2 separate regions of the Homo sapiens genome follow, and region 1 is linked to region 2. The links come from fine-mapping of genetic effects on gene expression. A gene starts in region 2. The other region holds a variant in brackets. All regions are shown on one strand. Distances are from middle to middle. Region 1 overlaps ZNF445 (zinc finger protein 445). Region 2 holds the start of TCAIM (T cell activation inhibitor, mitochondrial).

Region 1 (5,376 bases), 110 kb after region 2:
AGAGTGCTTGGTCTGGCTATGGAGATGGGCATAACCAAAAACACAAACATCACCTGACATAGGAACCAAGAGAGGTGGGGCCACGGGTTTAGAGGCACAAGGGTCAGACAAGGTCAGGCCTTGAAGAATGAAGAGCTGAACTGGCAGAGAGAGGGGTGTGGCACTCCAGGTGAAGGGAGGCAGCACAAGGCAGAACACTCTGGGGGGCTGGCATGGGGAAGGGACAGGAAAGCCAAATCCAACATTGATTCTGCCAAAATCTTTAGTAGTTAGCACCAAGTAGTCAGGCTTCTACTTTTTTTCCTTTCAGCTAATCTGAATTCATTAATATTTATATAATTATAGTACTTATAGAACTAAAATTATTTGAAAACTCAGGTTATTGGACAAATAGGTTCAGTATAATCCCAAATATAAACAGCTTACTTCAGGATAAAATAATTTCTGTTCTTTTGGCCGGGCACAGTGGCTCACACCTGTAATCCCAGCATTTTGGGAGGCCGAGGCGGGTGGATCACGACGTCAGGAGATCGAGACCATCCTGGAGATCGAGACCATCCTGGAGATCGAGACCATCCTGGCTAACACAGTGAAACCCCGTCTCTACTAAAAATATAAAAAATAACCCAGGCGTGGTGGCAGGCACTTGTAGTCCCAGCTACTGAGGAGGCTGAGGCAGGAGAATGGTGTGAGCCCAGGAGGCAGAGCTTGCAGTGAGCGGAGATCGCGCCACTGCACTCTAGCCTGGGTAACAGAGTGAGACTCCGTATCAAAAAAAAAAAAAAATTCAGTTTTTCACTTCATTCTTTGCACATTTTAAAATTTGATTAGAATGTTTAGAAATAAGCACATTTCATTCTATAAAAATGACAGGTCAGGCACAGTGGCTCACGCCTGTAATCCCAGCACTTTGGGAGGCAGAGGTGGGTGGATTGCTTGAGCCCAGGAGTTTGAGACCAGCATGAGCAACATGGGAAAAAAAAATAAAAGTTTTGTCTCTACAAAAAAATATAAAAAATTAGCTGGCAGGGTGGCACACACCTGTAGCCCCAGCTACTCGGGAGGCTCAGATGGGACCTGAGCCTGGGAGGTCAAGGCTGCAGTAAGCTGTGATCCTGCCACTGCACTCCACCCTGGGCAACCCTGTCTCAAAAAATAAAAAAGACAGTAAAAATATCCCTATACTGGGGCAGGAACTTTACAAGGTATCCTGTGGCAAAGGGAGCAGAGATGGGGGGAAAGGGGTGCTAAAAGTTTGATTGGAAAGGGACTTTTCCATGGTTACAACACCAACTGACATGGAAGCTGCACCTCTGAGAGGGCCCTGGTCCTAGAGGTCAACCACCTGATGGAGAGCCTTGGTAAACCAAGCCCTCTTTCACCAATCTCAGGAATCAGGTAGCACAGCCAAGCACTCTAACTTCACACATAAGGAAATTGATGCAGAGGTTCATTGACTTGCTCAAGATCAATCCTGCCAAGAAAAGGCACACCATGCCTGGAACCCAGATCTGATGACTCCAAGACCCTTCCTATGACTCTGGCCCCCCTGCCCAGCCACTTCTAGTGCCAGTTTTGGGACAGTGAAGGGACATCTTCAGTGCCATGAACAGCTGCTGCCGTAGGAAGGCAAGAGGATGGCAGAACCAAGATGACCAAACCTTCCTGAGGACAAAGCTGAACAGGCATCAGAACACCAACAGGAGACTTCTGCCCCGCCCCCACCATCCTGTGACACCACCACACAATATCAGAGCCTTCATTTTCACCTGCTCATGGCAATCCAGAGCAGGTAAGATTATTCCATACTCTACTGAAAAAGACATCTTCCAGGTTGGTTTCTTCTCATTTCAAGAAATGACCAGCTCCATGAACGGGCCCCTATAGTCAGGACACTGCTCTACTATTAAAACATTTTATCCTTTCATTCATAATCTGACCTCTTCAATAATCAGAAGCAATGATTACTCACATGCTTTAGCAATATCACTCCTTTGCCTTTAAGTAATTGATTCTTGCTTTTTGCTTCAACACAAGTGGGTGGGCCAGTGAGGGAGCTCCTCCCAGAACAGGCTGCCTTTTCTCCTGAGAGCAGCAGGCACATGCACTTGTTCCTTCGGGTTGAATCTGATTGCTAGCACCAGATCTCATACATGGAGAGGGGTATGTGAAGCTGAGAGGGGCCTGCAGTGTGCAGGGGCTAGAGACATGAACACAACAATGGTAAGCGTTTATATCTGCTGAGGCCGAGGATCCTATAGAAAATTCAGAAACGGAGTGGGGAGGAGTCTGATTTATGGGAACTGGCAGCAAGGCTAACTGCATGAGAAGCCTTTCACCCTTTTACTGAGTCCTTGGATCTGTGGTTAACCCTTATAAAATATAATTCAGATTCAAACCACATCACTCCTCAACTCAAAATTGTCCAAAAGCTCCCTGCCTCCCTCTGAGCCAGCTCAAGCCCCCGTAATGACCCATGATGCTCATATGGCCGGGCCTGTGGCCTCCCTGGCCCCTCTCCTTCCCTTCCAGCTGGCTCCCTGCACTCCATCCCAGGGGCTTCCTTCCTGAGGACACCAGTCAAGACCCAATCTCCTCTGCCTGCAACTCTCCCTAGAGAGCTACCTGCTACCTCCCTGGCTTCCTTCACGTCTTTGCTCACATTTCACCTTCTCAGTTGAGGCCCTCCCTGACCAGACTATCTAAAATCACGACTGATCTCCCAATCCAGCACTCCCTCT[G/GA]CTCTTCTCTGATTCACTTTGTCCACTACACACATCACCATCCAGAATACTGCGTATCCCATTTGTTTGTCATCTGTAAAGATCCAAGATGGCAGGATTTTCATCTGTTCTGGTCCCTGCTGGGTCTCTGGCAAACACACCAGCGCCTGGTGTATGGGAGTGCTCAGCACATTTCTGTTAAACAGATGGACCGCTGCTGCCTATGCAGGCCTGTGGGATGGGGATGGCAACAGGGTACTGGTAGAGATCCACACGCCAAGCGCTTGAGCCCAGCATCCTGCTCTCCTCCACCTGCCGCTGAGACCACTCTAACCCCCTAGCAGATATCCAAAAGCCAGCCAGGAAGGCTGAAGCCCCAGCCAGAACTCCCCAGGGGGCATTTGGGAAGGCTAGGAGTTCTTGATGCTGCTGCTTTTAAAGTCAACAGAATAGGCATGGCCACAGGCCAAACTTGAAGACAAATCTAGGATCCCACTGGCCCCTTTCCAGCAGCCATAGCCCATGATGCCACAGATATTCTGTCCAACCACAAAGGGCAGTGGTCTCTCTCTTCAGAGTTGTGGAAGGAGACCTGAATAGGGGAGCCGCAGGCTATGGTGCAGAGGCCACTCCTAGGGGCCGGAGTCTCCAGAAGGGCTCCAAAGGACATGGTGCTGCACTTCCCCAGCGTCACATCCTAGCAGGCAGGCTGGGGACTCCCCGAGCTTTCAAATCCTTGGGATTCTGTCACTAGCTTCCAAAACAGAAAGGGCTGGGCCCTTTATCAAAGTTACTCCACAATGCCTATAATTAAGGGTTCTCTAGCAGGGGACTGAGAACCCACCCCCACTGTCACTGTCAGGTCCCAGGCTAATCTCTAATATGGTTTTTCATATGCCGAGCCAGGTTCGAAGACCACCTGAAGGTCTTTCCACACTTGCTGCATTTGAAGGGCCTCTCTCGAGTATGAAATCTCTTGTGGCTAATGAGTTGTGAACTCTTGTTAAAAGTTTTCCCACATATGCTGCATTTGTGGCACTTTTTCCCAATGCTTATGTCCTGGAGTCCAGTGAGCCTGGAGCTCTGGCTGCAAGCTTCTTTGCAGTCTTCGAGGGGCATCTCTTCACTTGGTTTTAGCTTCTGTAATCTCAACTTTGTGTCCTGAGAGGAAGACCGTGCAGGCGGGCTACGTTCAGCCTGTGCTGCTCTGGTGTGTTTCCTCTGGTGACTGGAAAGGGTATGTCTCCCAATGAACTCTTTCCCACACCACTGACATTTGAAAGGTCTCTCTGTAGAGTGGATCCTCTGATGGTTAACAAGGCGATAGTTTCTATCATAAGATTTCCCACATAGATTACATTTATAGCGCTTCTCTCCACTGTGTATTCCCTTATGATCTAAAAGGGTTCTTTTACGTGTAAAGGTTTTCCCACATTCTTGACACCAAAAACGTTTCTCACCAGTGAGGATTTTTGGCTCCACATTTGGAGTCTTTTCACTTTCATGGCAATCATACTGTTTTTGAAGAGAGTGAATCCTCTGATGTCGGTAGAGATTGGAACTCCATCTGAAGGCTTTCCCACACTCCCTGCACTTATATGGCTTCTCTCCAGTGTGAACTCTCTGATGGATGAGGAGGAATGAGTGATTGCGGAAGGCCTTGCCACACTGGCTGCATTTGTAGGGCTCCTCTTTGGAGTGACTGCTCTGAGGAACCTGGAACACTGTGTCCTGACTAAAAGATGGCCCGCCCTCAGGTTTTCTTTTCATGGCATGCTTCTTCTTATGAACAATAAAGGCTGACCTATAGGCAAAGTCCTTCCCACAATCGCTACACTGGTAAGGTTTCTCACCTGTGTGAATTCTCTGGTGGTCAACGAGAGTTTTCTTTCTAGTAAAAGTTTTCCCACACTGCTGACACAGAAATGTTTTCTCCACAGCGGGAGCACCCTGGGGCTGACTGCAGTCAGGAGATTGCCTGAAGCCTTCACGACATTCATCTTGTTTGTAGAATTTTTCCTCCTCATGCAACCTCATATGACGAGTAAAGTTTGATCTCCATCTAAAGGTTTTCCTACATTTGGTACATTTATAGGGCTTCTCCTGGGTGTGAATCCTTTGATGTTCAAGAACATATGACTTACAGTGGAAGGATTTCCTGCACTGGCTGCAGTCAAAGAGTTTCTCCCCACTTTGGTCTCCCAAATGATGATCAAACCCTGAGCTGTAGGTGAGAGCTGCCCTATACTGATTCAATTCAAGAAATTTCTTCTTAGCATGGGTTTCTCGGTGCAGACGGTAGGCTGACAGGCGTCGGAAAGCTTTCTCACATAAATCGCATTTATAAGGCTTCACTCCAGTGTGAATTTTCTCATGCCGCGCACAGTTGGAACTCCACCGGAAGGCTTTCCCACACACCCTACATTTAAATGCTTTCTCTTGAGTGTGAAGTCTCTGATGATACGCAAGATGGGAGCTATGACTGAAAGTCCTTCCACAGTCACTGCACTTAAATGACACTCCCACTGTGTGAAGACTCTGCCCACGTTGGTGATGAGAGCTAAGGCTGAAGTCTTTTCCACACACGTCCTTTTTGTTCCCTTTCAGTCCACTATGAATTCTCTGATGTAGGCTGAAGCCCCCAATCATGTGTCTG
Region 2 (5,376 bases):
AAAAGGCTTAGTCAGATCTGGTAGGGCTGAGGTCAGGGCTGAGATTAAAGCCTATTTTAAAGTGTTTAGAGCATGCTTCATCTCATTAGTCCAGTATAGAGACTGTTCCTGAGTTCCCTTGAGGGCTTCATATAAAGGTTTTGCTATTAACTCAAAGGAAGGAATCCATATTCTGCAAAACCCAGCCTTACCCAAAAATGACTGAAGCTGTTGTTTAGTTACCACAATTGTCACGTTTAAGATCTGTACAAGCACTACAAAGGCTTTTTCACTGGGAATTAAAATAAGACCCCAAAATTGAACCCTTTGTGTGGATATTTGTGCTTTAGAAGGAGATACTTTGTACCCACAATTAGCAAGTTTGTTGAATACTAATACTGTATTTTGGTCTGGAACAGCCTGGTTAGGACTACAGATTAGTAAGTCATCCACATACTGAAGTAGATTGCTATCTGGGAGAAGCTGCAGGGGCTCTTTTGGTGAAGTGTTAATACAGCTAGAAGGTGGGGCCTTAGCTGTAAATTAGCTTGTAATTTTGTAAATCACAACCTAATAGAACAGGGCTAAAAAGGAGTAAAGGAATAGCCTTTCATTTTACAAGGGAATGGCTGTGTGAAACAGCCTCATTGGGGTTTTCCATCAATATCCATGAGGAAAATGGAGGACTGGCACATTGGGCCATAGTAAATGTTTATAAAGCTGAATAACTGTCCCGTGTATCTATGAGTAACATTATCTGTTGTTCAGCCACAATCAGATTTGCCCTGGGATCATCCACAGAGATGGAAAAGACAGGGCCGTGGATGGCTTCAAGGCCCCATCTAGAGGATGGATGACTGACATTTCAGAGGCTTGATCATAATCCAGGAATAGAATTAGAGGTGTTTGCCCTTGCTCTCGCCCTCACCCTCACCCTCGTTCTGCAGGATCCCCTTGTCAGGTAGGTTGGTGAGACTGTGGCTGTCATAGCCTAGAAGGAAGAGGTGGCCCCCCCTTCATGAGGGAGGGACACTCATTCTTCCAATTTGCAGTGAGGACAGGGTCCCAGGGATGGCTTGCAACCTGGAGGTTTGGGACATTCTCAACTTCAGTGTCCTTAAAGGCTGCTTTTAATAAAGTACAAAAGGGAGTTTGTGGGCCTTGCTCTAATTTTTGGAGTTTTTGTCTGATGTCTGGGGAAGCCTGACTTATAAAATGTATGGCCAGAAGGGATTGGCCCTCAGGGCTTTCAGGATCTAAATCTGTATATTTATGCATGGCCTCCATTAGTCTAGCTTGGAAAAGGGAAGGGTCCTTGGTCCTGAGTGATCTCTCATAATTTAGAAAAATTAACAGGTTTTATTTCATTCCTTCCAACAAACATGTTATAATCTTCTCTTCCCCTGTCTCTGTTTGGGCTGGCATTGGCAGCGTGGTATTGCCAATTGGGTTCTGTGTTGGGGACAGCTTCTGCCCTGGCTCTATTATTAGGATTGCCAACATGAGTTTCGTCTGCCCAAACTCGAGCTAAAGACCGTGATTTTTTCTTCGTGGGAACAGCAAATAGTTAATACCACAAATGTGTCTTGCCAGGTTAAATCAAAGGCAATAAAGCCCGAAATTCTTGAATGAACTTAGAGGGATCCTGGCTAAATGAACCCAACTTGGATTGAATTTGCCAAAGTTCAGACAATGGAAAAGGGACATGAACTCAAATTGTTCCCAAATCTCCGTTTGCCACCTTGTGGAGAGGCATAACACTTGGGGGATTTTCTGAGGACTTTGTACTAGTGGCATATGTAACTCCTGTGCAAGTATGTGAGGGTAATAAAGTATCTGGATGGTAGGGGACAGGGGTTGATTGGGGCATGGAGCAGATGGCAAGGGGTGCACAATGAGTTTTGACATGCGTGCATTACGGAGATGCATAGAAATTCTAGTTACTTTTAAATTTGGAGGGAAGAAGTCTGGTACCAGATGCTGGCTTTAGGTAACAGGGAAGTCTAGTTACCTCTAAATTCCTCAGGTAAGGAGTTTCTGCCTAAGGATGGTCGGCTTCATGGCCACCAGGTGATCTTTGCTTTCAATTCTATTGGCTTGATTTCATCTGTGGCAGTTTCTGGGGGGAATCAAAATTATAGGAACAAAATAAAACTAACAGTAAAACTTTCATGCTGACTGGGGAATGCTTAACGTTTAAAAATAGGTGCTGAAGGGTCCAAAGCAAACAACACAAGCCGGAAAAGAAATGTTTAAAAGTTAGCTATATTTATACAAGGAAAACCAAAAGAAATACTTAAATGAGACTTTTAAAATTCGAGGCTCTCCACTGAGACTTGTTCCCTGGCGCCAGCTCCGGGAGTTCCGCAGAGCCTCGCCCCCTGCCAGGGCGCCCGGGGCGAAGGACCGCACGGCGCATGCGCGCCTCCTCCAGCAGTCCCTTTCCCCTTCTTCCCCAAGATCCAGCGCGTGCTCGGTTGCCCTTCTCCGTTCCTTGCAGGCCCTTGGGTCAGGACCCACCACCTGCCGGACCATCATTTTCCGAGTCCCTCCGGCCTAGTCGGAGTGCTCGCTCGCGCCTCCTAAAGCTCTCAGCCGAGCGCGCCGAGACCCCTCAGGGCGGCCGGTAAGAAGGCGGAGGGGCGGGGGCTCAAAGCGCGCGGCGAAGGTGCAGCAGTTACCAGGGTGCTGACGTCAGCTAGAGGCAGGGCACCGCGGAAGGTTGAATCCACGCCCTGGCTGTGCGCAGGCGCCGTAGGGGGAAGGCCTGGCACGCTCCAGCCAACCAGGGCGTCACCTGCAGCTCGTCCCCCTGCCCGGGCTTGCCTCGAGCGCCCTGCCGCCGCCGGAGCGGGGAGGGTGTTGGGGGCAGGTGGAGCCGGGAGGGCCCAGCTGAGAATTCAGGGTTGGGGGCTCAGAGGGCACTGCGGCTAGGAGCCCGTCAAAGCCTGTCGCCCACCGGGGCGAGGGCAGGTGGGAGCGCCTGGCCGTGCGTCGCGCGCTGGTTGGCCAGCTGACGCCCCAGTGCGCATGCGCGTCCGAACAGCCCTGCGGGCGGAGCGACTGTCCTCCCTTCTGGTGTACTGGGTGGGAGGTGGAACTAGTCGGACAAAGCCCTCGCGTCGGACCCTTGCCAGAACTGTAAGGAGCAAGAGGGGAGGGGCTCCGGTGGTGCATTCATGCTCCTCTAGGGGGGAAGCGGGGTCGGAGGGGAGTGCTCAGAGCCACCTTAGCGCAAAGTGCTAACTTTTGAATTGAGGCAGTGCCAGGGGACGCAGTATCCGCATCGCATCTACATTTTAACTCGCTGTGAAATGAGAACGCAAAGACGATTTAGGTTTTATTGTTTCCGACTTATATTTTTCCGAGGTCTTTGATTTACGGGAAATTGTTACGTACTAAATCTCATATAGCGAGATTTAGAAAAGGAAGCTACAGAATCTAGGCTAATGTATCTAATAGCATTTCCTGCTTTTGCTCTTTTTCTTTGCCTTTTTCCCCTACTCTAAGAAGTTCATATTCAACTGAAAAGCCATGAAAATTACCGCTTTTGTCCCTCCTTGATATAACAAACTGCTTTCAGAAACCGTACAAGATAGTCACTAAGGGAAGTCACAGTTCAAATGAGAGTGGCATGATATTAATTTTGTTAAAATAAATTACTTTCAAATAAAAGTTGTGCCAAATGGTCAAAGCTCAATCCTGAGAGCTCTATTTGGCACACACTCGGTGTTAGTTGAAAGTAAGCAAAACAAAACCGTTTTTCGTGTACTCTTCCATAATTTGGATTTTTCACTGATTTAGGTATCTTTCCACCAAATTTGGTTTGAAACTGCACAGATTTAATGCCTCACTTAGAACAGATTTTAGGTAAAATTAGAAATTTTCACTTTATGAAACAGAAACTAATATCACTGTTAAGTAGATTAAAGTAGTCATTTACAATGGTTTGTAAATAAATTTTATCCTTCCCGGTCCTCTGCCCTCTTCCAGGAAAGGCACCATTTCCTTAGAGAAGACCTTCCTGAGCTCTCCCCGCCCCATTCCAAGTGTTGCGTCTGGGAGTTTCTCATATTCTGTGCATGTTTGTATTATTGCATTTACTGCGTTGTTTTATACTTATCTGCTTGTGTCTGTTTTTACACTCCCCCCTCCCTCTAAAAGTCTTTTGAGTATTAGAATTGTCTTAATAATTTTCTAGTCCCAATGCTTTACGCAGGACCTGGCCCATAAGTGGTGATGAATGGGTGAGTTAAAGACTCGGTATGCCTCCCAAGTGTGATAAGACAGTGCAACCTCTTCAGTTATTTTATAGCATTTTCCAAGTGGAAGTATAGTGGGCTAAGTGCAGTATGGACAGGAACCACCTATGTAAGAATTTATCTGAAGACGAGAAGCCTGCGGTTGATGTGGATGTCCCAGACTTTTGGAGCTAGTGTCTGAATGAGAGCACCCAACTCTACTCTGAAGCAATGTGTCTTCAGTCAGCTGATAGTAATTTGATTTTCTGTGTAGCTAGTCCTGAAAGAGGAAGAACATTAGATCTGAATCTTCTAGTTGTCTTAGCAGTTATAATCTCAAAGTAAATTTACAGATTGACATTCCAGTTATCAGGCCTTCTAATTTAGCTTCCCCAAGGCCCACGTATTTCTGTCTTGAAGTGATAAAATTGGGTTCTGTTCTTACAAGGTTGAAGACTAACCCAAGATCTGGGCGTTGTGAAGCGGCAGGCAGCCATGCCTGCCAACCTGCTGGACATTGTCTCTACTTAGAATTTTGGTTTTTTTAATCTGAAAAGTACATAAACCATACAGGAAACAAAGAACTAATTCAAGCAAAAACTTGAAATCCTCCTTTGATTTTTAGCATAAATTGGGTAGCTAAAGATCCAAGTTTGTATTAAATAATTATTTTTAAAGAATTAAAGCTTAAACATTAACAGATGCCCCAGAATCCTCTTTGGTGATAGAATCAGGATTCCCTAATACAGTGGTTCTCAAACCTGAGTGTGCATCAGAATCCCTGACAGTGTGTTAAAACAGATTCCTCCATCCCACCCAGATTCTGATTCTGCAGGACTCGGATGGGACCTGATAATTTGCATTTCTCACGGATGCTGTTGCTGCTTTGAAAACCACTGCCCTAAGAGTTATTTCTTTCTCTCCTTCCTACCCTGTCCCTTTCTTCTTTTCCAAAACTGGATCCTCATCTGTCACTTAGTCGTCAGAGCCCATTCTTGAAGAGCTTACAGGAAATACTCAAAAGACTCATAGTACTCGGTTTTTCATTCTTATTCTTAAACAGAACGAGAAAATATATTTTTAATTTTTTCCAATGATTTGTATAGGAAGTGATCATCTTAGAGCAATAATTTTGTTGAATGGATAGCAGAATTAT

What was found.
Region 1: its variant is fine-mapped to the expression of TCAIM in whole blood (TOPMed, PIP 0.94).

Annotation. Positions count from the first base shown.
Region 1 is chr3:44,442,985-44,448,360 of GRCh38, forward strand. It overlaps ZNF445 (zinc finger protein 445), which reads right to left. Exons shown (of 8, transcript NM_181489.6): 8 at 1-5,376. The coding sequence ends at 3,591. Among named protein-coding and RNA genes, the nearest start is that of LINC01988, 18 kb to the left of the region's middle. The variant G/GA (reference allele first, on the strand shown) is at 2,742.
Region 2 is chr3:44,335,715-44,341,090 of GRCh38, forward strand. TCAIM (T cell activation inhibitor, mitochondrial) reads left to right here and starts at 3,052. Exons shown (of 11, transcript NM_173826.4): 1 at 3,052-3,120. LOC105377055 (a long non-coding RNA gene) reads right to left here and starts at 2,404. Exons shown (of 4, transcript XR_940782.4): 1 at 1,991-2,404. It also overlaps a transcript of TOPAZ1 not described here. RefSeq lists enhancers at 2,065-2,718, 2,403-2,572 and a silencer at 2,713-3,102.